Homo sapiens: one gene and its partners. The protein of the gene in region 2 interacts with the protein of the main gene of each other region in a biochemical or structural test. Each region holds a gene or a part of one and is shown on either strand. Other genes may lie near its edges.

The links.
Region 1: the proteins of FMNL1 (region 2) and SRGAP2 form a complex in vitro, tested with the Homo sapiens proteins (one study listed by IntAct).
Region 3: the proteins of FMNL1 (region 2) and GAS7 form a complex in vitro, tested with the Homo sapiens proteins (one study listed by BioGRID).

What each region holds. Positions count from the first base shown.
Region 1 is NC_000001.11:206,199,151-206,206,617, reverse strand, and holds the start of SRGAP2 (SLIT-ROBO Rho GTPase-activating protein 2), read right to left. Parts: upstream 3,078-7,467; 5' UTR 2,968-3,077; intron 2,775-2,967; coding exon of another isoform or gene 2,623-2,774; exon of another isoform or gene 2,511-2,622; intron 2,367-2,510; exon of another isoform or gene 1,905-2,366; intron 1,190-1,904; 5' UTR 648-1,189; coding exon 581-647; intron 1-580. Other genes in the region: protein FAM72A, read left to right, coding at 4,593-4,744, 6,734-6,811. UniProt on the Homo sapiens protein: Postsynaptic RAC1 GTPase activating protein (GAP) that plays a key role in neuronal morphogenesis and migration mainly during development of the cerebral cortex. Regulates excitatory and inhibitory synapse maturation and density in cortical pyramidal neurons.
Region 2 is NC_000017.11:45,217,665-45,224,936, reverse strand, and holds the start of FMNL1 (formin-like protein 1), read right to left. Parts: upstream 3,053-7,272; 5' UTR 2,813-3,052; coding exon 2,684-2,812; intron 1-2,683. UniProt on the Homo sapiens protein: May play a role in the control of cell motility and survival of macrophages. Plays a role in the regulation of cell morphology and cytoskeletal organization. Required in the cortical actin filament dynamics and cell shape.
Region 3 is NC_000017.11:10,195,537-10,203,631, forward strand, and holds the start of GAS7 (growth arrest-specific protein 7), read right to left. Parts: upstream 3,071-8,095; 5' UTR 2,855-3,070; coding exon 2,672-2,854; intron 1-2,671. UniProt on the Homo sapiens protein: May play a role in promoting maturation and morphological differentiation of cerebellar neurons.

The DNA of each region.
Region 1 (7,467 bases), on a different chromosome or scaffold from region 2:
GATTGTATGCAGGCCGACCAGAGACCAGGCAGGTACAAGGTACACCCAAGGTGGCAATGGACTTTTGGTGCCAATGCCATTGCAAATCTCATGTTTTAATATAGTGCATCCGAAAAACCCCGCCTCTCCCAAGGCTCTCCAAATGGTACACCTTCCCAAGGTTGCCTTTCTGTCTGGACTCCTCTTCAATCTCTGAAACAAATGTCCAAACACCTGTCAGATTTCAGTTGTCTTTCAAGGAAACCTGACCCAGAGAACCGGAGGCAAACTGCCTTTCTCTAAGAGCCTCCTGCCCCTCCCCCCACCCTGTCCGGCTTGGGGGGGAAAGGGCTGCCAAAATCATGGTCAGCCCCACAAAGATACTCCTACAGCCCACTGCAAAAATTCCTTTCCAGTGTCAATGGCCCCCTGGCATTGCCCATCCTTTGGAGGTTCAGACCCATCTATGAAACCACCTCTGGGGTCAGCCTGCCCCCATCTGCTCCACCCAAAGAAATGAACAACCTGCAAATCACGGTGGAAATACACGCCTCACCAGTCCACAGAGCATTTGCAGTGTGCTATTTTTCAAAGCCCTTACCTTTGACCTGAGTATCGTACTCTGCTATGATCTCCTTATCCTTTTTGAATTTGGCTGGAGACGTCATGTTTTCCTTCTTTCTTCCAAATTCGAATTGTGAATTGATAGATCCACGGAAAAAATCCAACCACCTAAATCAATACCTCCAAGACCGCTTCTCTCGAGGGCAGAAGGGGCCCCCCACGGTGGTCTCCAGCGCTCCGTGGAGCGCGGGCTGCGGGCTGGGCAGACGGCTACGGCGGGCACATGCAGACGGTGGGCGCTGGGGCCGGGTGCGGCGGCGGCTGGTGCCTGTGCTAGAGCCGGAGCCGCAGCCTCAGCATTAGCCGGGAGAACTGCAGCGCCCGGAGGCTGGCCTGGGGTCTGACATCAACGACACAGGCGGGGAGTGGAAGTCCTTCCGCACAACATGGTGTGGGGCTGCGGGGGTGTGGACGCGCCCAGCTGTGTCCCCGGGAGGGAGTGGGTGCTTTTCGGGGTGCCGGGGGAGGGCTGGGCGTGCTTCGCGGTTTTTTGTCGTAGAGGCTCAAAGATGCTGCAAATCAAATCCCAAACGGGAGCCGCAACAGCGCAGACTGGATCGGAAGTCGTTTGCTCCGGTTCACTTGCCTGTAAATGCAGGAAAAGGGGGAGGGGGCGATCAGCCAGAGCGCAGATCCTAATCGCGGCGGGGGTGGGGTAGGGGACGTCGTTCCGAGCCCGCCCTGGGCCCATTCCTGTCCGCTTAACGTCTCCCCGCCCGCAGAGCCTGGCGCTACGAGGTGGGGAGGAAGGAAGCTCCCTCCGGATTTTAAGGCTGAAAGAAAACACTTTGGAGCAGCCGCCTGCGCGGGCTCCGGGCGGGGACTGCAGGAACGCGGGGCACCAGGCGGGGACTGCGGCACCTCGGCGGCCTCCTGAGCCCCGCCAGCGCTGGGCAGCGGCCAGCCCGAGGGAGCCCTCCCGACCTAGCCCCCGACGTGGCCCCAGACCCCCGGCCGGGGCACCTCCCTGTACATCAAAGGGGATCAAAGCCGGGGAGGGATAAGCCACCAGGGCACAACTTTTCTTCCTCTCCCGCCCCTCCTCCCAGTTGTTTTGTTTTTGGTTACTAGCTTCTCTTGGCAGCAAAATGTTGATGGGGGGGGGGGCAAATCTGCAGGAAAAAGCCTGCTCGGCACGGGACACATCCAGGAAAACAATGTGGTCAGCTGAAGCAGGAAACGGGTTAGAGGATAGGGTCGGAGCCGGGAAAACCGGGGGGCGGCGAGCGGAAGGCAGCCGTCGCCTCCCTCAAGCTAGGGACGATAGTGACTATAAATGCCACCCCCAATATTTTTTTGACACCCAAGCTCAGAGATCCCAGATATCCCACCCAATCCCAGGCTGGGGATGGGAGGAGGTCGGTGAGGTCGCAGTCCTGACTCCTCGCACCAGGCGGTGCCCGAGAAGATCCGGCCCCGGACGAGGCCCAGGGGGCTGGAGGGACGCAAGCGGGAGCGCGGAGCCCGGCGACTAGCTCCCTCGCGTGCCGCAGCGGCGACCCTTTCTACTTGGTCTTTCCTTTTCCTCCGAGCGCCGGGAGGAGGAAGCTCCCGCTAGCGTCTCCCACTTCCCGCGGCTGGAGGAAGGGGCCACGCTGAGGGAACAAGACAGGGAGCAGAGGCGGCGGGGTTCAGGCGAGCGGGAAGCGGGAAGCGAGAGGCGGGTGTGAGATGGGGTCCTGAGGCTGGAAGGGAGCCCGGGGACAATTGGAGTTGCACACGCTCGGAAGGCGGGAGGCGGCAAGGAGAAGGCTGCCTTAGAGGTGAGGGGAATTGGGGCATGATCATGGGCCGCGATGTTGCGTGAAGCGCAAGGATGTCAGGAACTGTGGGGGCCGAGATGTGGTCTAGGGATGGGAGTGGGCGAAGAGAAGTCCATCGGGGCGGGCCGGGGGGTGGGACTCGGGGAGAGCCCCGGAAGCTGCGCGGAACACCCATCCTCCTGGGTCCTAGGCTGGGACCCGGGCTGTCCGCCAGGGCTGGGAGACACTGGAGGAGGCCGGCCGATGATTACGCGCGATGCCAACGACGACTGCCCTACGGTGGACCGCGGCTGCCCGTGTGCGGAGGAAAGGGAGAGGCGGCTGGGTGCCGGCTGCGCTGCGGTCCGTGAGCCAGGACGGAGTCCCAGGCTGTACAGTGATGGGCGGAGAGACTCGCAGTCCTGAGAAGTATTATGGGCTGTACTGGGAGATTTGGAGAGGGTGGAGGGGGGGCGGTCTGAGGGATTCCGGGCGGCACCGCTAAGGCGATGCCGCGAGCAGCATCCGCGCCCTCTCCTTCCCGCCCCAGCCCCGGTTTGTTCAGTCAGGGCTCCAGCCCGGCGGCCGGGAGGAAGAAAAGGAAGAGGGAAGGAGCCTTTACCTGGCTCTGACGCGACGGGTCCCAGGCCCCCGGCTCCGCTTCCCACTCAGAGCTCTCCTCCCCTCTCTTCCCCGCCACCCGTTTCTACGCAGATCGGTGCCCCAGTCCCTGGAGGAGCCTCCGCCAACTCCGCAGGACCCCGCCGGGAAGTAGAGCCCACCCCTTTACCAATCACCGCCCGTTTTCTATCGACCGATGGGGCCCATAGCCAATAGGAAGAGCTGATCCCGAGAGGCCCGGAATGAGGGGGAGGAGCTGGCAAAACTTGGAGGTGTGACTAGCACTGCCGAGGCGTGGTCACAGATTAAGCTCCACCCCGGGTTGTTGAACCCCTAAGTAGAACTGATGGGCGGGATTAAGGTGGAACCGACGACCAAACACAAACTCTTGAGCTAAGGCACGGCCAATTGGGCCGGGGTAGAGAGGAGGGGTGTTGCGGGGAGTTTTAACCAATAAAGAGTAGAGACCGGTGGAGACTGTAGAACCTCTTCCAATAAGAAGCGGGAAGGGCGTGCCTTGCCACTTTCACTAGGGCGAAGGCAGGGTTTGCCGAAACCTCCCGAAGCCGGCCAATGAGATCGGAGGCGGAGCCAAGCTCAGCCAACCAGAAAGCCGAATTGATCTCAGCACCGTTACTGGGGCGGTGCCTACGGTCTTCAAGCCACTAAGCTCTCGTGAGGGGAGGCCCCGGAGCCTTCCAATGAGGGACTGGGGCTAACTCTAGTTCTTCCAATCGGTGCGCGGCGCTGGCAATTCAAACTGATACCGGGTTGGAGAGGCAGGAAAAGCGGAAGAGGGAGCGAAAACCAACGTGTTCGGTGACAGACCCCAGCGCCGACTGAGCCTCTAAAGCGACTTCAGCTCTGCCCCACCAACACCACCGCGCGCCCGGGAACAGCCGCTCCGGGAAGAAACCTGAGGGGACTGCGGGGGGCACGAGGGACAGCTGAGGGAAGGGAGGACGCGAGAGAAACAGCGCGAGCACGCTGAGGGCCGGGGGTTGCCAGGAGAGGGGCCCGCGGACCCGCAGAGCGGAGGAAGGTCCGGGAGAAAAGGGGCGGGACGGAGGAGAATCCGGGATCGCCTGGCAGAAAAAGAGAAGGGAGTTTCTGAATCCTGGGAAGAGGAGGCGTGGGTAGGGACGCTTAGCCCGAGATCCGACAGCAGGGAACCGGAGCGCTCCGGGGGAGGGGCTTAATGCTGGGGAAGGGATGTCTTAAAAGAGGAGAAGCTTTAAATTAGACGATCGGAGAAGGCTGAGGGAATTGCTATGAAGGGGCGGGAGCTGAAGTGTAGAGGACTCCTTTAGACAGCAGAAAGGGAAAGCCGTTGAGAAGTTCCCTTCAAACTCCACCTGCCTCCTCTCCAATTCAAACTCCACTCCCTTCTCCAAAAGTTAAAAGGAAAGCCAAGTTTGCCACGCTCCCCTGTTCCTACTCAATAAATACTTCTTCTACTCCGCCACCGGGAAAACAGAAAAAAAAACTAATTTCCTTCCCAATATTAGGACTTAGAAAAGCTCTAGGTCCCGCAATTTGAATTTTAGCCTAGGGGAATCAAAATAGTAGGAGCATTACTCTTGTTTCCTTTTTCAAAATCCCACACCTCATCCTTCCTGCGACGCCATGTCTACCAACATTTGTAGTTTCAAGGACAGGTGCGTGTCCATCCTGTGTTGCAAATTCTGTAAACAAGTGCTCAGCTCTAGGGGAATGAAGGCTGTTTTGCTGGCTGATACTGAAATAGACCTTTTCTCTACAGACATCCCTCCTACCAAGTAAGTCATGCTAGTGGCGGGCAACGGTAGCTTTTAACTAAATGGGAACACTTATGGCTTGGATCTGTGGGAGTCAACAAGGAGGTTATCATTTCGGTGTTTCAGCCACTCCCACCAGTTTGATGATCCCCTTGGAATATATCTAAGTGGGCAGACTGTCTGGACAAAGTCTGTGGTTTAGCCAAGGTGGTCAGTCCTGATGTAATGCTTCTAGTTCAATTGCAGTCATGCGACCACACATCTCTTAAGTTTGATCCCTGGTTCAGTGCCCTGCCCAACCATCCTATTTCACTGAATCAAGTCCGTGGCGTAGACTTTAGGTAAATTCAGGCAAAATTTTCCGTACTGTTGGAGAGGAGAGGTCATTTAAGTTTTTCATTTTTATCCATGAAATTTTGCACCAAAAAAAAAAAAATCCGTTTTCTATCATTATTTGCAATTGGCATCCTAAATCAGATCCGTTGTTCATCAAATTCAGTTTTCTTTCCTCAAAACTCTCTCTCTCTGAAAGAGATGTAAATAGATTTTTATGGGATGAAAAATAGAGACTTAGCCTTAATCCTTATCTCCAATAAAGACTATTTTGGACATTACACATTTGTTCCCATAATTGAACCCTTTTAAAATCTGTTTGTTTTCAGCCACTAACTGCTTTTGGGTGTAGAGTCCTTAAGAATTTGCTTCCTATTTGGTAAAATAGCCATTTTATTTGACTCAAATAAACCTCTTTCTAGCTCTAAATGGTACTTTCCCTTTCCATAATCAACATATATATGCCCTACATGAATCTTCAAAATTTAGTTATTTATTGAAATTTTATTATTAAAAGGAAAGTAATTATCCAAAATATGAGTGGACAGTTATTCTCTAAGTCTTTGGATATAGAGCCAGAGGAAGCAGGTTAATAACCACAATTCATTTTAAATGAATTTCATGATAATGATAGAAACTTTACAAGTTTTTTGATTTACCCAGGTAAAGCTGTGTACTCTTCCTTTCTTGAAATCTTTTCTGAATTGGTCTAAGTGTAATCATGTCTAACAGCAAAGCCAAAGGCTCTCATTTATTGCAGAGATAAATGTGTTATTTTAAAATCTTTTTAATTTTTTTAAATTCTAAGTTAATATTTTACATTTGTGTGTGTGTACATCGTATATGTATTTCAAAAAAGGGAAAACACTAGAAAATAAATCATAGAACCTACTGCTACAAAGTTCTGTGATTCATTGTCCACTGCTTTTTCTTTTTAGTAGCTCATACACAAATTTAAAATATTAACCCATTCATCTTTGCAATAGCTATGGTAAGTAATAGGGCAGTCATAAGGAAGGCTAGGTGAATTGTTACAGGTTAGACCCAAGTCTAGAATAGAATCATGTTTTTCCCATTTTCTACCCTTCTTTGTAGGGGTTAAAATAATAATGAATTAGCGTGCTAAGATGTATGTGAATCAATGAACACATAAAAATTTTTTTAATGGAAAATTTGTCAGATGTTTATGTTGAGCTCACAAATATGAACTGACTCTTTAAAAATATACTATAGTTCTATGTTAGCTTTCAGCTCTTTGGATTGACAAAATTTGTGCTAAATCAAGCGTAGAATTACTATCTGATCCAGCAGTTCTGGGTACATATCCAAAATAATTCAAAACTGGATCTTGGAAGAGATATTTGCACACCCATGTTCATTAACAGCATTATTCACAATAGCCAAGAGGTGGAAGCAATCCAAATGTCCATTGATTCTACAGATGAACAGATAAACAAAATGTGGTATAGGGCGCCTATAGTTCCACCTACTCAGGAAACTCTGGTAGGAGGGTCACTTGAACCCAGGAGATTCATTACACAGCAATGTGATTATATTTAGCACATCTGCTCTGCACACATAAAACTTGTTAAGTTGGTAAATTTTGTTAATTTTTTGCCACAATTAAATTTTTTGTAAAGTACATCTGACTGTCTTTTTATACCTTTCTCTCTCCAGCGCAGTGGACTTCACTGGAAGATGCTATTTCACCAAAATCTGCAAATGTAAACTGAAGGACATCGCATGTTTAAAATGGTAATTTGTGGCACTATTCTGGATAGCTCTGGGTTTGGAAGATGGATATTGACACCAAAGCATAGAGAAAGGTTCAGTGGGCTGCAACAAGGACTGGTATAAAGCATGCAATGAGCCATTGAAAAATTACTTATTACTTAGAGCTATTTTTTAAAAGGGTTTTCTGATGCTTCACATTAGTATATAATTTTACAGTTTTCAAAGTGTATTCACAGTATCCGCTTCAATTTTCAGAACAAGGCAATGTAGGTTAGGGGGGAGAAACACCTGGATTTACAATAATAAAAATCATGTTTGAGGTCTGACCCTACCCTTACTCTCTATGTGATCTTGAGTGAACTCCTTTAGCCTCTAAACTGCTGAACCTCTGTTTTCTTATTTAATTTCTAGGTTATTACTCCTTCTTTCTTTGTTTTTAGAGGGGTCTCATACTGTTGCTCAGGCTGGAGTGCAGTGGCATGATCATAGCTCACTGTAGCCTTGAACTCCTGGGCTCAAGTGATTCTCCTACCTCAGCCTCCTGAGTAGCTGGGACTACAGGCAGGCACCACCAGACCTGGCTAAGTTTTTTATTTTTGTAGCAATAGGGTCTTGCTATGTTGCCCAGGCTGATCTCAAACTCCTGGCCTCAAGTGATCCTCTCTCCTCAGCTTCCC
Region 2 (7,272 bases):
AAGACACCCAGCCTTGGGCATGGGCGTAGGAGAGGCGAGAGCTTGGCGCCCCGCTGGCTGGTGTTCCCACCATCACAGCAGGCCCGTGGGGCTGGGCAGCCATCGCTCCTCTGCTGTTGCTAAGGCAGCAGCCGGAAACCCTGGCTCAACCTGCTCTTTCTCTCCACCCCCATTTTAAGCAGGGGGCACCCCTTTCTTTCACAGCTTTCTTGGAAAGGTAGCCCCCCACCACCCACCCTTGCATGGGAGAAGGGCTCCCTGCACCTCCTGTCTGGCTGTAAGTGGGGACACCCCTCACCCACAAGAGAGGTCCTACAGCCAGGAGAGGAAGGAGAGTTTGGGGTATCAGGATCCTATGCCCCACCAGGGACAAAAGGGGAAGGAAGAGGTTCCCTGGGGCCGCTGGACTACATCCCTGAGGGCAGGACTGTGCTTCTCCCATTGAGACTGGGGACCACTGATGGCGGTGGGCCCCTCCCCTCAGCAATCTAAGGTTCTTCTCCTCTTAGACACTGACCGAGGACAGGACTCAGCTCTGGCCATGGTGGTTCGGGTGGGGGTTCACATAGCGACCAACTCTGCGATACACACTGCCAGACCTGAGGGTTGAACCAACTCTTTAGCCCTGGGCAGCCTCAGGCAGAGGTCAAGGTTGTCACCCTGGGGCAAGCCTCATGCCCCTGCTGGTGGGGAATGAGAGGAACCAGGGTCTTAGCCAAGTGTCCTTAGATTGGGTTTAACCTGCCCACAACAGGATATAAGACAGGCTGAGCCACCCCGGGAAGAAGGTATAAACACACTGGGGTTCCTGGGCACCTGGTAGGGGGTAAGCCCTGGTGGGTGCTGCTACCCTAAATTTCTGCTAGGCACCTCCACTTTCTCCACCAGCACACCCTCTCTGACCCACCTGTGGGTGTCCCCCCTCCACATCCTGGTACTCAGGGACTCCCAGTGGCATTTAGTGTCAGACTCAGCCAATCACAGCCACAAATCCAAGCAGGGCAAACAAGTCCTACACACACATCAGAACCTCACCATTTGACTTGTGGATTTTCCCCTGGTCTGAATTATTCACAGGGCTCCTCCCCATCAGCGTGCTAAACAGAAGATTGGGGTCAGGACCTCACCCCAAGAGCCCACACCCGCGACCATAGACACACACTTGGCGGAAAGACAGACCCATGTCCCTCCAACCAGGTTGGCAGGGGTCCAAGGACCCACCACCAATGCAGGCTCTCCAGATGGCCCCCAGAGACTGTGTCTCCTCATTCTCCCCCCTCCCCCATCTGCTCAGCTCAGCTCAGCTTTGTGAAGTCCTATGCTTGGGGAGCGGGGAGCAGGGCAGGTGGAGAGATGGAGAAGTCAGGGGCCAGCCTGGTGTGAGGCGTCCCTCAGTGTCCCTGCCCTCCTCTAATCAAGCAAGGTGTCTTCACAAGGATGGATCCCTCGCCACCCCATAGCTCCTCCAAACTCCCCCCAGCCTTCTCTTGGGAGAGGACAGAAGCCAACATTTTCAGGAACTGTTAGGAGGTGACCCTCTGGAGCCATGCTGAGGATCTAGCACGTATGGCCTAATGACCAGCCAGGCGAGGGGAAATGATGTCAAGGAGATGGAGGGCCACCAACTGAGCCAGAACCCTCTGCGGCCTGTGTCTCCGTTGAGCCCCCACCCTCAGACCTGCAGGGACTGGGAAATGCATCTGGGAGAAGGCACAGCCTCATTTTGCCTGTCACCCAGCGTCCAGCAAGGGAAGGCTGACAGCAGGCAGGCCACCAGGCAATTAGTTAGAGGAGGGAGCCAGGGCCAGGGCGTCGGGGGTGGGGAGAGTGAGAGTGAGCAGCTCTTCCTCTCCCTACTTCTGCCTTATGCAGGGTCTTGGAGACCCCTGAGTCTGCTCTGGAGCCCCCACCCCACTGAACATGTTGACTGTTTCCAGGCTCGGCCTGAGCTGCTGGTTCCCTCCCAGAGACCTATTCCCCAGCGACCCCGCTCCAATTCCCCAGGTAGGCACAGAGGGGGGTGGTTCCAGATTTTGCTCCACCCCTAGCCTGGGCGACCCACCCGTCCTGACCCCACCCTCCCTCATCTTACTCCCTTCAGTGGCTTGGAAAGGATGCCCCAAGATAAAGACCCACAGGCACCCTGGCTCTGACATATGGCGGGGTAGAAACACAGATACCTCCTGGCCATGATCCGACAACCCCATTCCCCGCAGCCCAGGCGCCCAACAAATCAGGACCCAACACCTCCAGCAGGTCTCCCGCTCCCGGGAGGTTGTAACCCTTTCATCTTTGACTCCAGACACAGAAAGGCAGATGCCCCAGACCCGCGCCCGGTGGCTGGGCCTGCGTGCAGTGGGGAAGGGGGCGACCCGGGACCCCTGTGCGTGCCCCGCTCCCAACTTCTTCACAGGACATACTTGTTTAGACCTTAAGACCCAGCTGGGGTGGAGGCGTCTTAGGGAGGGAGACCGGGCGATAACTGAAGAAAGTTTTGGGGGGAGAGTGCTAAGTCACTCTGAAAAAAAGGCCACTGTCGCTCCCACCTCCTGGAGGGGGCAGCTGCCGGACCGGGGATCTCCAAGCGGCACCTGAGTCCCCGGGGGCGGGGACGCGCGCCCAGCCCCTGCCGCGCCCCTGCCGCCCCCCGCCCGCGCCCGACCCGCCTCCGGGTCGCACTCACCAGGGCGCGGTTGAACCTCTCCTCCAGCTCTCCGGCCGCGGGCATCGGCTGCTTGGGAGGCGCGGGCTGCTTGGGGGGCGGCGCGGCGGGGCCCGCGGGCTGCTCGGCGCTGCCGGCCGCGTTGCCCATGGTGGTCCCCACCCAGCCGGCCAGGCGCCTCCAGCCTCGGAAATCCAGCTTTCCGGGGGACGGGGACGAGGCTCCCGGCCCGGGCGGGGGCGAGGGGGCAGCGGCTGGCGGTGGCGGCGGGGGTCTCGGCAGCGGGGGGCGCTCGGCTCAGCGGCGCGCAGGGGCCGGAGCGCGGCGTCCCATCGGGGCGGCCCCGTCCGTGGGACCGGGCGGCGAGCTGCAGGGTTGGGGGAGGAAGTCAGGCTGCAGGCCGCCGGGGCCAGAGGGCTGGGCCGGGGGCAGGAAGCTGCGGCGCTGGCTCCCCCCTCGGCGATTTTCGAACTTCTGCTGTCGCTCCCCGTGCGCGCAAACCGCAGTTCGCCGCCGCCGCCGCCGGGCACCCAGCCCCAGGGGGGCGGGCTGGAGGGAGGGGGCGGGCGCTGGCCGGGGGACCCCCGCAACCATGGCGGGCGGGGAGTGGGCTGCCGAGCCGCTTCACCTGCCGCAGAGGGGGCGGCCGGCGCCGCTTCACCTGCCGGAGCGGGAGGCCACCGAGGCGAGGCCGAGGCGGCGGCGCGCTCGGCGGCGCCTCCGGGTCCTAGAACCGCATCCTCCCGCTCGCCTCGGGCGAGGGATTGGCCGGGTCTGGGTGAAGGGGATCACGGCCTGGGGATTGGAGGGGCACATCTTCTCCGCACCGAGGATCTCAGCGACTGCGAGCACGGCTCGGAGACCCACGGTGGTGCAGCGTTGGGGCGCCAGGGCTGCGTTCCCGTCTCGCGTCCCGGACTGAGAAGGTGGGAACCCCCTTCCAGGCCCCCCACCTTTTATTTCTCTCCTCCCCTGCTTAGCCCAGAGACGAGCTGAGGACGAGGGGGAGCCATCTCCAAACAGGAACTCCTAAACAGGGTGGGGGGCGCGGACGCAGGCCAGTGGAGACCCCCGCCACCTGTCCCACCTCGACCAACCGTGCGCCTGTGCAGGGCACCCCTACAGGTTTTAGAATGGGGGCACCTATGGAATATGGCAGGCTGCGAGAAGCTGGGCCCGCCAAGGTGGTCCCAAGGAGGAGTGGGGGGTTGCGGAAAGGAGGATGAGAGCCAGCCACAAGGCTGGAAAAGGAGTGGGCACCGCAGAGGAGGGAAAAAGAATCTTGACACTGTCACCGCCAGGGATCTAGGGGGGCCTCTTACCTTGGAGAATAACAATCTCTGATGTCTGCTAATTACAGAAATACTTTCAGAGCTCTTTCATTCATCCTGACAATGGCCAGAGAAGGTAGGTATTGGTAGCCTTATTTTAGAGATGGGGAAACTGAGGCTGAGAGTAGGTAAGTAAGCTGTCCAAGGGCACTCAGCTAACAAAGGACAGAAGCAAGCCTCCTCACTGTCTACCTCCAAAACCTACACTGGCTTGGAGTTGCTGTCCTGGCCCTCCACTGCCCATCTCATGTAGGACGGGAGAGTATGGGGGGCTGGGGTCCCATCTATAGCCTGAATTTGAGACTTTCAGTTGCTCCTCTCATTCCCCATTTAATTTGTGGGGATCCCCAACTGACCCCTCCCTACACTTCCAGGGCACTGAGGAGGGAGGGCCCGCTGAAGGAGCCCCGAATTATCTCTAGGCCAGGTCAGGAGCCATTAGTGTCCCCTCCCCTGACAGCATCCTCCTCCTTCTGCCCTCACATTCAGAGCCACTGACAAGACTTTAAGCAAGAGACGGAGAGTTAACATCTAATCTGGAGGAAGACCCTGGAAGGAGCCAGCCCCTTCCCCCAGGCTGACCTGGTTTAAGCCTTTCTTCTGCCAAGGTCACCAGCACCCCAGATGGGTGAGAGATGTGATCACTGGTTTCGTGGCCTGACCAAGGACCTCCAAGGTGAGTCAAAGCAGAATTCTCCTTGGGCATGCAGGGAAAATGATCCATTCCCTGCACACTGCCATATTCTCCTTCTCAGACAGACCAGAGCCTTGCCCTTGGGTCCTTGCCCTTGAGATTAGCTAGGACCTCCTCCTCTTCTTCTCCTTCTTTCTTCTTCTTCTTGTCTCTATAAGATAACTGTCGTGGAAGACTTTTTTTTTTCTTTTAAGATGGAGTCTCTCGCTGTTGCCCAGGCTGGAGTGCAGTGGCTCGGTCTCAGCTCACTGCAACCTCCACCTCCCAGGTCCAAGCAATTATCCAGTCTCAGCCTCCTCAGTAGCTGGGACCACAGGTGCGTGCCACCACACCCAGCTCATTTTTGTATTTTTAGTAGAGACGGGGTTTTGCTATGTTGACCAAGCTGGTCTCGAACTCCTGACCTCAAGTGATCCGCCTGCCTCGGCCTCCCAAAGTGCTGGGATTACAGGCATGAGGCACCCCGTCCAGCCTGGAAGACTTTTTTTTTTAATGAATAAAAACACATTTTTTTAAAGAATGGATTCCCTGATTCCTCAATGGCTGTCTCTTTCAATTGAACAATAAACCTTTACTTAGCATCAGCTACATGCCCATCACTGTGCTTGGTCCTGCAGATTCTGTGGCAGATGAGAAATGCCTTGGTCCTTGGGCTGCTTGCAGCCTAGCGAGGGACAGACTTTTAACCTCTCTAGGAGAGTGGCTGCTTCAAGTCATCCTATGGGACCAGCTGTTCATGCTTCCTCTTGCCCAGAACTACTTCTGTGAGAGGAAAAGAGAAGGGTAGGAGCGTGCCCTGCAGCTGGAAACCCAAGCCAGGCGGGGAGCCACGAATGCAGTAGTTATCAGACTGTATCTTCAATCCTGGGGGCTTCTCAAGCCATTGCCAGCCACTCTTCACCCAAGGCCTGGTGGAATAAAGCTGGGCTAAGTAACACCTCTTCTGTGGAAAATTATTGTTTCTGCAAGCCTATATTCATTCTCCCTCTCTCTCATGCTGATCAGAACTGTGAGTTACAAAAAAAATGAGAAGATGGAATCAATTATTACGTAGTAAATTTCATTTGCTTGGCAGGAGGTATCTTTCCCATCTTGGCCCACAGAGGAGGAAATCCTAGAAGGGATGACTGAAGCTTGGGACTAACACATTGGTGGATCTGTGCTACCCCCTGCTGGCCGTAGACGGTATGACAGCCAAGATAGGGCAAGGCTTCGAGGGGCGATGGATGGATTCACCGCAGCGGCGACATTTCTGGACTGTTGTCACCTTCAGTGCAGTCACTGGGAATATTCAGAACCCAGGTGATTGATAAGGTTTTCCCAGGGATCTCTTCTCTCCCCTTCACCATTACTCAGTAGGAGCTTCCTTAAAAACGGAAAACGAGAGGCCGGGCGCGGTGGCTCACGCCTGTAATCCCAGCACTTTGGGAGGCGGAGGCGGGCGGATCACGAGGTCAGGAGATCGAGACCATCCTGGCTAACACAACCCCGTCTCTACTTAAAATACAAAAAATTAGCCGGGCGTGGTGGCACGCGCCTGTAGTTCCAGCTACTCAGGAGGCTGAGGCAGGAGAATCGCTTGAACCCGGGAGGCAGAGGAGGTTGCAGTGAGCTGAGATGGCGCCACTGCACTCCAGCCTGGCCGACTGAGACTCCATCTCAAAAAAAAAAAAAAAAAAAGGAAAAAGGGGCCGGGCGCGGTGGCTCACGTCTATAATCCTAGCACTTTGGGAGACCAAGGCGGGCAGATCACGAGGTCAGGAATTTGAGACTAGTGTGGCCAACATGGTGAAACCCCATCTCTACTAAAAATACAAAAAATTAGCCGGGTGTGGTGGCGCATGCCTGTAATCCTAGCTACTCGGGAGGCCGAGGCAGGAGAATCGCTTGAACCCAGGAGGCCGAGGTTGCAGTGAGCCGAGATCACGCCATTGCACTCCAGCCTGGGCGACAGAGCAAGACTCCGTCTTGAGGGAAAAAAAAAAAAAAAAGAAAAAGGGGCCAGGCACCTGTAATCCCAGCACTTTGGGAGGCTGAGGAGGGAAGATCGCTAAAACCCAGGAGTTCAAGACCAGCCTGGGCAACATGGTGAGACCCCATCTCTACAAAAAATGCAAAAAAAAAAAAAACAAAAACAAAAAAAAAAACAGCTGGGCATGATGGTGCGCACCTGTAGTCCCAGCTACTCGGGAGGCTGAGGTGGGAGGATTATTTGAGCCTGAGAGGTCAAGGCTGCAGTGAGCCAAGATCGCATCACTGCACTCTAGCCTGGGTAACAGAGCAAGACCCTGCCTCAAAAAAAAAAAAAAAAAAGGAAAAAGGTTATTACACAGTTCAAAAGAGAAACAAAGTGCAAAAGCATGTGCAAAGAAAGTAAAGTCCCTCCTGGCCAAGTGCGATGGCTCAAGCCTGTAATCTCAACACCCTGGGAGGCTGAAGTGGGTAGATCATTTGAGGTCTGGAGTTTGAGACCAGCCTGGCCAACATGGTGAAACCCCGTCTCTACTAAAAATATAAAAATTAGCTTGGCGTAGTGGCGGGTGCCTGTAATCCCAGGTACTCGGGAGGCTGAGGCAGGAGAATCA
Region 3 (8,095 bases), about 35 Mb from region 2:
GGAGGCTAGTACAGTCCATCTGTCTGTACTTGTTTCTCCAACAGCTGCCCTGGCCTTCTGAACTCCATGCTCCCAAGCAAGCTGAGTGACAGCACCACATTGGCTGACATCTCATGAGGTTCGCCATCTCCAGTATCTATGGGCCCCCTCTCTAGTCTCATGAGTCCAGATGCTGGCCAGTCTACCCACCAGCCTGGGGACCTCTGCATTCTCTGAGTCTGCCCTTCAGGACTCACCCCATCCCAAGCAACTCTGCTTGCATGTCCTCTATCTCTACCTAGCCTTCAGCCTTGAGGTCCAACTTGCTCATGTAGGAGGTTCCCAGATGCCAAGCACCTGACCCACATGCCCCCCTGTTGAAACTGCATCTGCTTTGGCCCTGAGAAGAGTCCCACCCAGTACTTAGGATACAGGACTCGGGCCCACTGTGGGAAGACCCCCAGCTGGTTCTGAGTAAAGTCACACTTTGGGGTTAGCAGGGAAGATCCTCCAAGTTGCTCCTGGATGCAGCTGTCCTCGTTTTAGCCCTAGAGGTTCAGCCTCCCCTTCGCGGTGCTGTCACCAACATGCTGACCTCAGGGGCTGCGCATGCCCCTTTTCCCCATGGATCCAGACCCTTCGCTCACACGCTGTTTGGCATAGTTGAGCCCGGGCTATCATGTTTAAAAAAGGCACAGGCGCAGGGGGTGATACTCAGTCATCTGAGCTGCTAACAAAACACGCAAGCATTACTAGTTGGGGAGCTGACTTCGCCTCTCTCATATTCAGCTTGCTTGTCTATAAAATGGGGGAAGTACCTCACCCTTCACAGAGCTGTCAGGGAACTGGTGATAACGTGCACACACTGTGCCAAGCAGGTGCTCAGAAGTATTGCTCACGCAGATGGATGCTTCTGTTGCAAGTTACTAGTCAGGAATGGTCTGAGAGGCCCTGAGACACCAGAGATCTCTTACCTTTGTATATGCCAGAGGATGGGACAGACACACCCAAAACTGTCCCAGTTGTTAATTCCGCTTGTCCCCTGGCCCTGGTCCATCGTCCCTTTCCCGGAAGAAAAAGCAGCACTCCACTCTTGCTAACTAACACCTACCCAGCCTCACCCCTACACAAAACACAGCTGGCTCAGTCCAGCCAGGGATGCTCCTCACCGGACAGACATCCATCAGCCAAATTTCCACATCAGAATTTCCTGGAAAAGGGTGACCACCCGAAGAACTCCCAAAATACGTATCTATCCCAGGGCTTCAAGCTAGAAACAAGGAGGCCCCTTGCTTCTCATGTAAGAAGCAATACGTTCGCTTTCTTTTACATCCGAATCTCGGGAAAGGAACTGGAAAAGCCAGGGCAGGGCACACCTGAGCCTCTCCTACAAGTAGGGTATCTCCGGATTCTCCAGATACAGAACCAAGAGGGTTCCTGCAACATACTCTGCTGACAGCCCATGAAAGCTCATTCCAGCAGCCCCTAAACTTTGCTCAAATGCTACTGATGCCTTTAGGAGAGATTTTGTTGTTCTCTGGACCTGAAAGCAATCTAATGTACTTTTATAAGGCCAGGCTCTTGCTGACAATGTTGCCACAGGATACATCCTCAGGCGGACTCACCCTGTAACCATTTCACTTCTTTCTTTCTTCCCCCCGCCCCCGATGAATTGCACTGAGCATTCTCAGTCAAAATTTGCTACTTTCTCTGTGAAGTAGGTCAAGAGTTAAATAATAAATAAATTCAGCCTCCATGATTTCTTCCGGCAGTGTTTTACCAGAATGTTTAGGAATACTGACACCATTGAAGGTAACTGTTAATTTAGTCTTTACAAGAATCCTGGGGGCAGGCGGGCTTCTAGTAAAGGGGATGTCCTGGAAGGTCACCCCCCCACACACAAAGGACTTTAGAAACTTCGGGTCTCACTCAGGCTGTGACTGCGAGCTCAGTGATTAGAGGACAGCCTGTCACATAGACAATAAACAGCCAGCCGCCTTGCCTCAGCAGGTCCTGTGCAGCCCTGGGGCCAGGCCAGAACCCCAGGAACAAGCCACTTTCGGGTTCTGAGCCTTAGCCTCGGGGAGCTGGACCAGGGGAGCAGGCAGTGGCGGGGGGTGCTACGGCACCCCAGGATCAAGCCTGCTGAGGGGGCTCGGGCTGGTGGCCAGCAGGCTCGGCTGACCAGCAAGTGGGTGGTCCCGAGGCGGCCAGGCAGCCTGACCCAAGGCAGCACGACCGTCCACGGGTCATCAGGCTCTAGACTCCGGGGTGGAGACGCGGGGCTGCGGGACCGAGTCGGTGCCACTTTCTCGCACCCCTGATCCTCCGTGCCTCTTCCCAAGACCGCCAGACCCTTCACCGGCCCCTGCCACTGCCGGGAACGCTCCCGCCTGCTCCTTAACTCACACAGGCAACAAGTTCTCGCTTCCTCAGAGCAGCCACGGTGTGCTCCGGAGGCCCGGCGCAAGGTGGAAGCTCCCCGCGAGTCCGCGTTGCCCACGCCCCGAGGGGCGCCCGCTGCCGTCGCTGCCCCCCAGGAGCGTGGAGCTACAGGTAGCGCCGGCAAGGGCTGCCCCCCGGGGCGCCCCTCCGACCGGGACGCTGCGGCATCCCCGGAACGGGCAACAGGTACGCGAGCGCACCGAGGACCGCAGCCCCGGCTCCTACAGCCCCGGCCCTCGCCCCTTACCTCCAGCAACTGCACGTAGCTCGCCGGGAACCAGCCACGGAGCCCGTCCTCCTTCTCGCCTTCCCACCAGCCGCCGTCCGGGACCTGCAGCAGCGTGATCAGCTCGCCCGCGGCGAAGCGCAGCCCCTGGCCGTGCCGCTCCCCGGAGAAGGGGTACAGGGTCCGGCAGCGAGCGCCGGACATGGCCTTGGCGCCCGGGTTCACAGCGCAGCCTGCATTCCCGCCGAGCCCCACGGGCTGGGCAGCGGCTCCGCGGGGTCCCAGGCGCCCGGCGCTCCGGGCTCCCGCGCTCTGGGCGCGCGCCGTCTCTGGGGTGCGCGGGGGTCCTCAGGCAGGCGGGGGACGCGCGCTCCGCGCCGGGAAGCAGAGACTCGTTGGCTTCGCAGAGCGAGCGGCGACGCCCCCGGGCCGGGCAGCTCGCGGATCCTAGCTCTGGGCTGGGGGGCGGGGCTCAGGGGGAGGAGACCCAGGCGCCGCGGGCTCCGGAGACAACTTCCCGGGAACGCGGAACGCGGGCTGCCGCCGCGAGGGCTGGCCGGGGCCGGGGCCGGGACCGGGGCCGGGGCCGCCCTGGCGCGCGGAAATGCGCAGCTCCCCCGGGAGGTGGGACCCGGAGCATCCCCCGCGGCAGGACTCCGCGGCGGGCGGCCGTGGAGAGGAGCTGGCGGCCGGGTGGCCGGGCGGGGGTTAGCTCACTGGCGAGGGGGCGGGCCGGGGCGGGGCCAGGGCGGCCACGCCCGCGGAGGGCTGCGCGCTCCCTCGCAGAGGGGCCTGTCACTGGGGAGAGGGGCTCCCACTCGCGCCCCCACCGCCGGGGACCGCGGGAATGGAAACGCCCCTCTGTTCTGTGCCTGCTTTGTAGGCCTGGCGGCCCGTGGCGTGCGGGCGGCTTCTTCGAGGTGTCTGCGAGGGATCGTTTGTGGTTGTCATTGTAGTGGTTGAACCTGGGGTTGAACTTGTCTCACCGGAAACTGAACAATGGGTGAAAGACAGGTTTGAAGCCTGGCGCCTGAGCCCAGCAGCCTGGTGGCAGCGTGGCACGCTGGAGGGACGGAATGGAGAGAAGACGGGGTCGGAGTTGATAGAATTGGAAACAGTCGATGGGGATAAATGGAGGAAAGGCGAACGGTGAGAGGAACAGCACCAATGCTTTTACTTGCAGAGGGAAGGCCGGCCCAGGGTACCAGCCCTCCCGAAATCGAGATGGGTTGGCTAAAGAGTCTACACTCATGTAGTCAGTCAACAAACATTACCAGGAGGCTGCCATGTTCCATGCGATGTGCCAGGTACTACAAACATCATTTGGGCCAGTCCCTGCTCTCCAGGGACCAGTGAACCTGAGTGCTGCAGAATGTTGACCTTGAACTGACCGTACAGAAGTAAAAGAAAGCTTGGTTTCTTTGCTAGTCTACTCCATAAAAAATTTTAAAGAAATAAAATAAAGTACATTTTTTAGCCTGTAAATAGCTGGACTCGGCCAGGCGCGGTGGCTCACGCCTGTAATCCCAGCACTTTGGGAGGCTGAGGCGAATGGCTCACTTGAGGTCAGGAGTTCAAGACCAGCCTGGCCAACAAGGTGAAACCCCATCTCCACTAAAAATACAAAAATTAGCCGGGCGTGGTGGCGGGTGCCTGTAATCCCAGCTACTCAGGAGGCTGAGGCAGGAGAATGGCTTGAACCCGGGAGGTGGAAGTTGCAGTGGGCGGAGATCATACCACTGCATTCCAGCCTGGGTAACAAGGGTGAAACTCCGTCTCAAAAAAAAAAAAAGCTGGACCCTTTAATACGCCTGTATACCTCTGTCTACTCCTTCCCCCCTCCCCCAGTCACCTTCTGTGGCTCCCTATTGCCTTTTAAATTTGGTACAAACTTCTCTGCCTGTACATTTCAGGCCCTCCACAACGCCTCCTCTAGCTTCACCTCTTACTATGACTGCCTAGATATCCATTACAAAACCAGTCAGGCCGGGCTCCAAGAGCCTGAAGATCTTGCGCACCTGTCTATGCTTTGAATCAGACCCTGGCACAGAGCCTTTCACCTAGTTCAATGGTTCTCAATCCTGGCTGCACATTACAGTCATTATGCAACTTTTTAAAAATACTCATGCCCAGGTTTTAAGAGTCACTACTGAGCCCTAGTCTGCAGCTAAGCCATCTCACCTGAGCAGCCTCCATCTGTTCTCTGGCCATGGGCAAAGTGACACAAGCAGATTATTTGTAATAGTCCATCAATTGCAAAGTCTTGAACATTCGCTTGGCCGGAAATATAAAGAAACAAACTCTTGACCACAGTCACCACTAAGAGTCCCTTAAAGCGGAGCTGCATAACTTCATATCAAAAACAGTCATTAAAAATAGCTGGCCCAATGAAGTTTTAAAAGAGATACAATTCCTTGTATCAGGAAAATATGTGACTTCCAGCAGGCTGTTCTGAGGCTTCATTCCTGATGATGTGGCCTGAATCAAGGTAGGACAACTGATTTCCAGCCATCCTGCAACCCTAATTCTCTGCATGCCCGTGAGGAACTGTGATCCAGTTTGGACTTGAGAAATCGCAGCCTACACAGCATGCCATACACTTGAGTTCTACCTGACCCACCTCAAACATTCCTGCAGCAACCAAAAATGATAATAGCTGTTAATTTCTCCACTTAATTCATTTCATTCCTGTAATCCTACGAGCTGATGAGGTGACTGTTGTCCCAGTTTTCAGGTAAAGAAACTGGGCTCAAAGAGTGTGACTTGCTCACCATCATACAGCTGGTCAACAGCAGAATCAGCTTTGAACTCAATTCTAGCTTATTGTACACTGGTGTTGCTTTCTGTCGTCCCCCCTGCCAGTCAGAAAGCAGGTATCCTAGTGACTCACCCACAAATAGCATCTTAAGAGAAAGTTCTCTAGGCTGGGCACAGCCTGTGAGAGCTTATGCCTGTAATCCCCACACTTTGGGAGGCCAAGGCGGGCGGATCACGAGGCCAGCAGATTGAGACCAGTCTGGCCAACATGGTGAAACCCCATCTTTACTAAAAATACAAAAATTAGCTAGGTGTGGTGCCGCGTGCCTGTAATCCCAGCTACTCAGGAGGCTGAGGCAGGAGAATCGCTTGAACCTGGAAGGTGGAGGTTGCAGTGAGCCGAGATCACGCCACTGTACTCCAGCCTGGCGACAGAGCAAGACTCCATCTCAGAAAAAAGAAAAGAAAAGAAAAGAAAAGACTCTCTGGTGATACCCAATGTCAGTCTTCATAGAAATAAGACTGGACTAGCAGTTAGTGGAACTCCTGTTGCTGATCTCTTATCAATCAGGTAACCTCCAAATCCTCAAGTCTTCCCATACCTTTGGGTCTATTTCCCCGTCTGTAATTGGAGATCGAATCCAGTAACTGGAATATGGGAATTTAAATGGTTAAATGTAGTTAGTGGTTAAATATGTTGGCTCTGGACTGCCTTTATTCAAACCCCATTTCTGCCACTTTCTAGCTGTGTGGCATTGGGTGATTTACTTACGTCTCTGAGCGTCATTTTCCTCATCACTACAAGAAGACAACAGTAGTATTAATATCATAGAGTTATTAAGAAGATTAAGTGAGGAAGCATGTAAACTGTTTAGAGCAGTGCCTGGCACATTAAATGCCCCTATGTTAGCGATTGTTTTTATCTATCCAGTTCAAGGGTCCTGGTGATTTATTACGTAACACTTCTTTTTTAACTAAGATTTCTAGAGCAACAATAGAAGGAGGAACTCTTACATCTTTGGGATGCCACAAATTTTGTAGAAACACACTTTGGCTTTCTGTTTTCTCCCAGGATCTTGAAGGAAAGATAAATTCCTCCCTTATCAATTTTCCCTCCTGCCTTCTCCCTCTCTGATTTATATTACTATCTTGAAATTGTATTTAAATCTTTAATTATTTTTGCTTTTTTTTTTTTTAAATTGAGACAAGATCTGGCTGTATTGCCCAGACTGGAGTGCAATGGTGTGATCTTGGCTCACTGCATCCTCTGCCTCGCGTCTCAAGCCATCCTCCCACCTCAGCCTCCAGAGAAGCTAGCTGGGACTACAGGTGCACACCACCATGCCTGGCTAATTTATTTTTGCTTTTTTTTTTTTTTTTTTTTTGAGATGGAGTCTCGCTCTGTAGCCAGGCTGGACTGCAGTGGCACTATCTCGGCTCACTGCAAGCTCCGCCTCCTGGGTTCATGCCATTCTCCCGCCTCAGCCTCCCAAGTAGCTGGGACTACAGGCGCCTGCCACCACGCCCGGCTAATTTTTTGTATTTTTAGTAGAGACGGGGTCTCACCGTGTTAGCCAGGCAGGTGTCAATCTCCTGACCTCGTGATCTGCCCGCCTCGGCCTCCCAAAGTGCTGAGATTACAGGCGTGAGCCACCACACCTAGCCTACTTTTGCTTTTTAAAAAAATAATAATTATTATTAAGTCTTATTTTACTGGTTAGACTGTTAGTAACTCAGGAGAGGGATAGCATCTTTGTTTTAAATTTCCATCTATCTTTTTTTTTTTTAGACTGAGTTTTACTCTTGTCACCCAGGCTGCAGTGCAATGGCATGATTTTGGCTCACTGCAACCTCCACCTCCGAAGTTCAAGTGATTCTCCTGCCTCAGCCTCCTGAGTGGCTGGGATTACAGGCATGCGCCTCCACGCCCGGCTAATGTTGTATTTTTAGTAGAGATGGGGTTTCGCCCTGTTGGCCAGGCTGGTCTCGAACTCCTAACCTCAGGTGATCCACCCACCTCTGCCTACCAAAGTGCTGGGATTACAGGCATGAGCCACCATGCCTAGCCTATCTATCCTTCTTAAAGCCTAACGTTGACTCATACAAAAAGCAGGCATTCAGTACTTCTTGATCTTTTGCATAGATTGTTTGGACCCTGTTCATATTTAGATTTTCTACTTGCTAAGTTGTTGTATAAACCTGTGTCAGAGCTTTCTCTAGACACTGTGCATTTGTTAGTTATGTGGTGGCTGGTATTTCATTTCTACCCAAGACAACCTTATACACCTTTCTATCAGCCTATGGATGGCAGAGAAATGGAAAGGTTTCCATTTCTTTACAACGTTAAACATAGCCAGGCGTGGTCGCTCATACCTGTAATCCCAATGCTTTGAGAGGCTGAGGCTGTGGGTTCCCTTGAGGCCAAGAGTTTAGGACCAGCCCAGACAACATAGTAAGACCCCTGTCTCTACAAAAAATAAAATAAAATAGAAAATAAATAAAATAATTTAGCCACAGGACGTGGTGACATATCCCTGTGGTCCCAGCTACTCAGGAGGCTGAGGTGGGAGGATCACTTGAGCCTAGGAGATCGAGGCTGCAGTGAGCCATGACCACACAACTGCACTCCAGCCTGGGCAGCAGTGCAAGCCCCTGTCTAAAAAAAAGAAAAAGGAAGAAAAAGCAAGT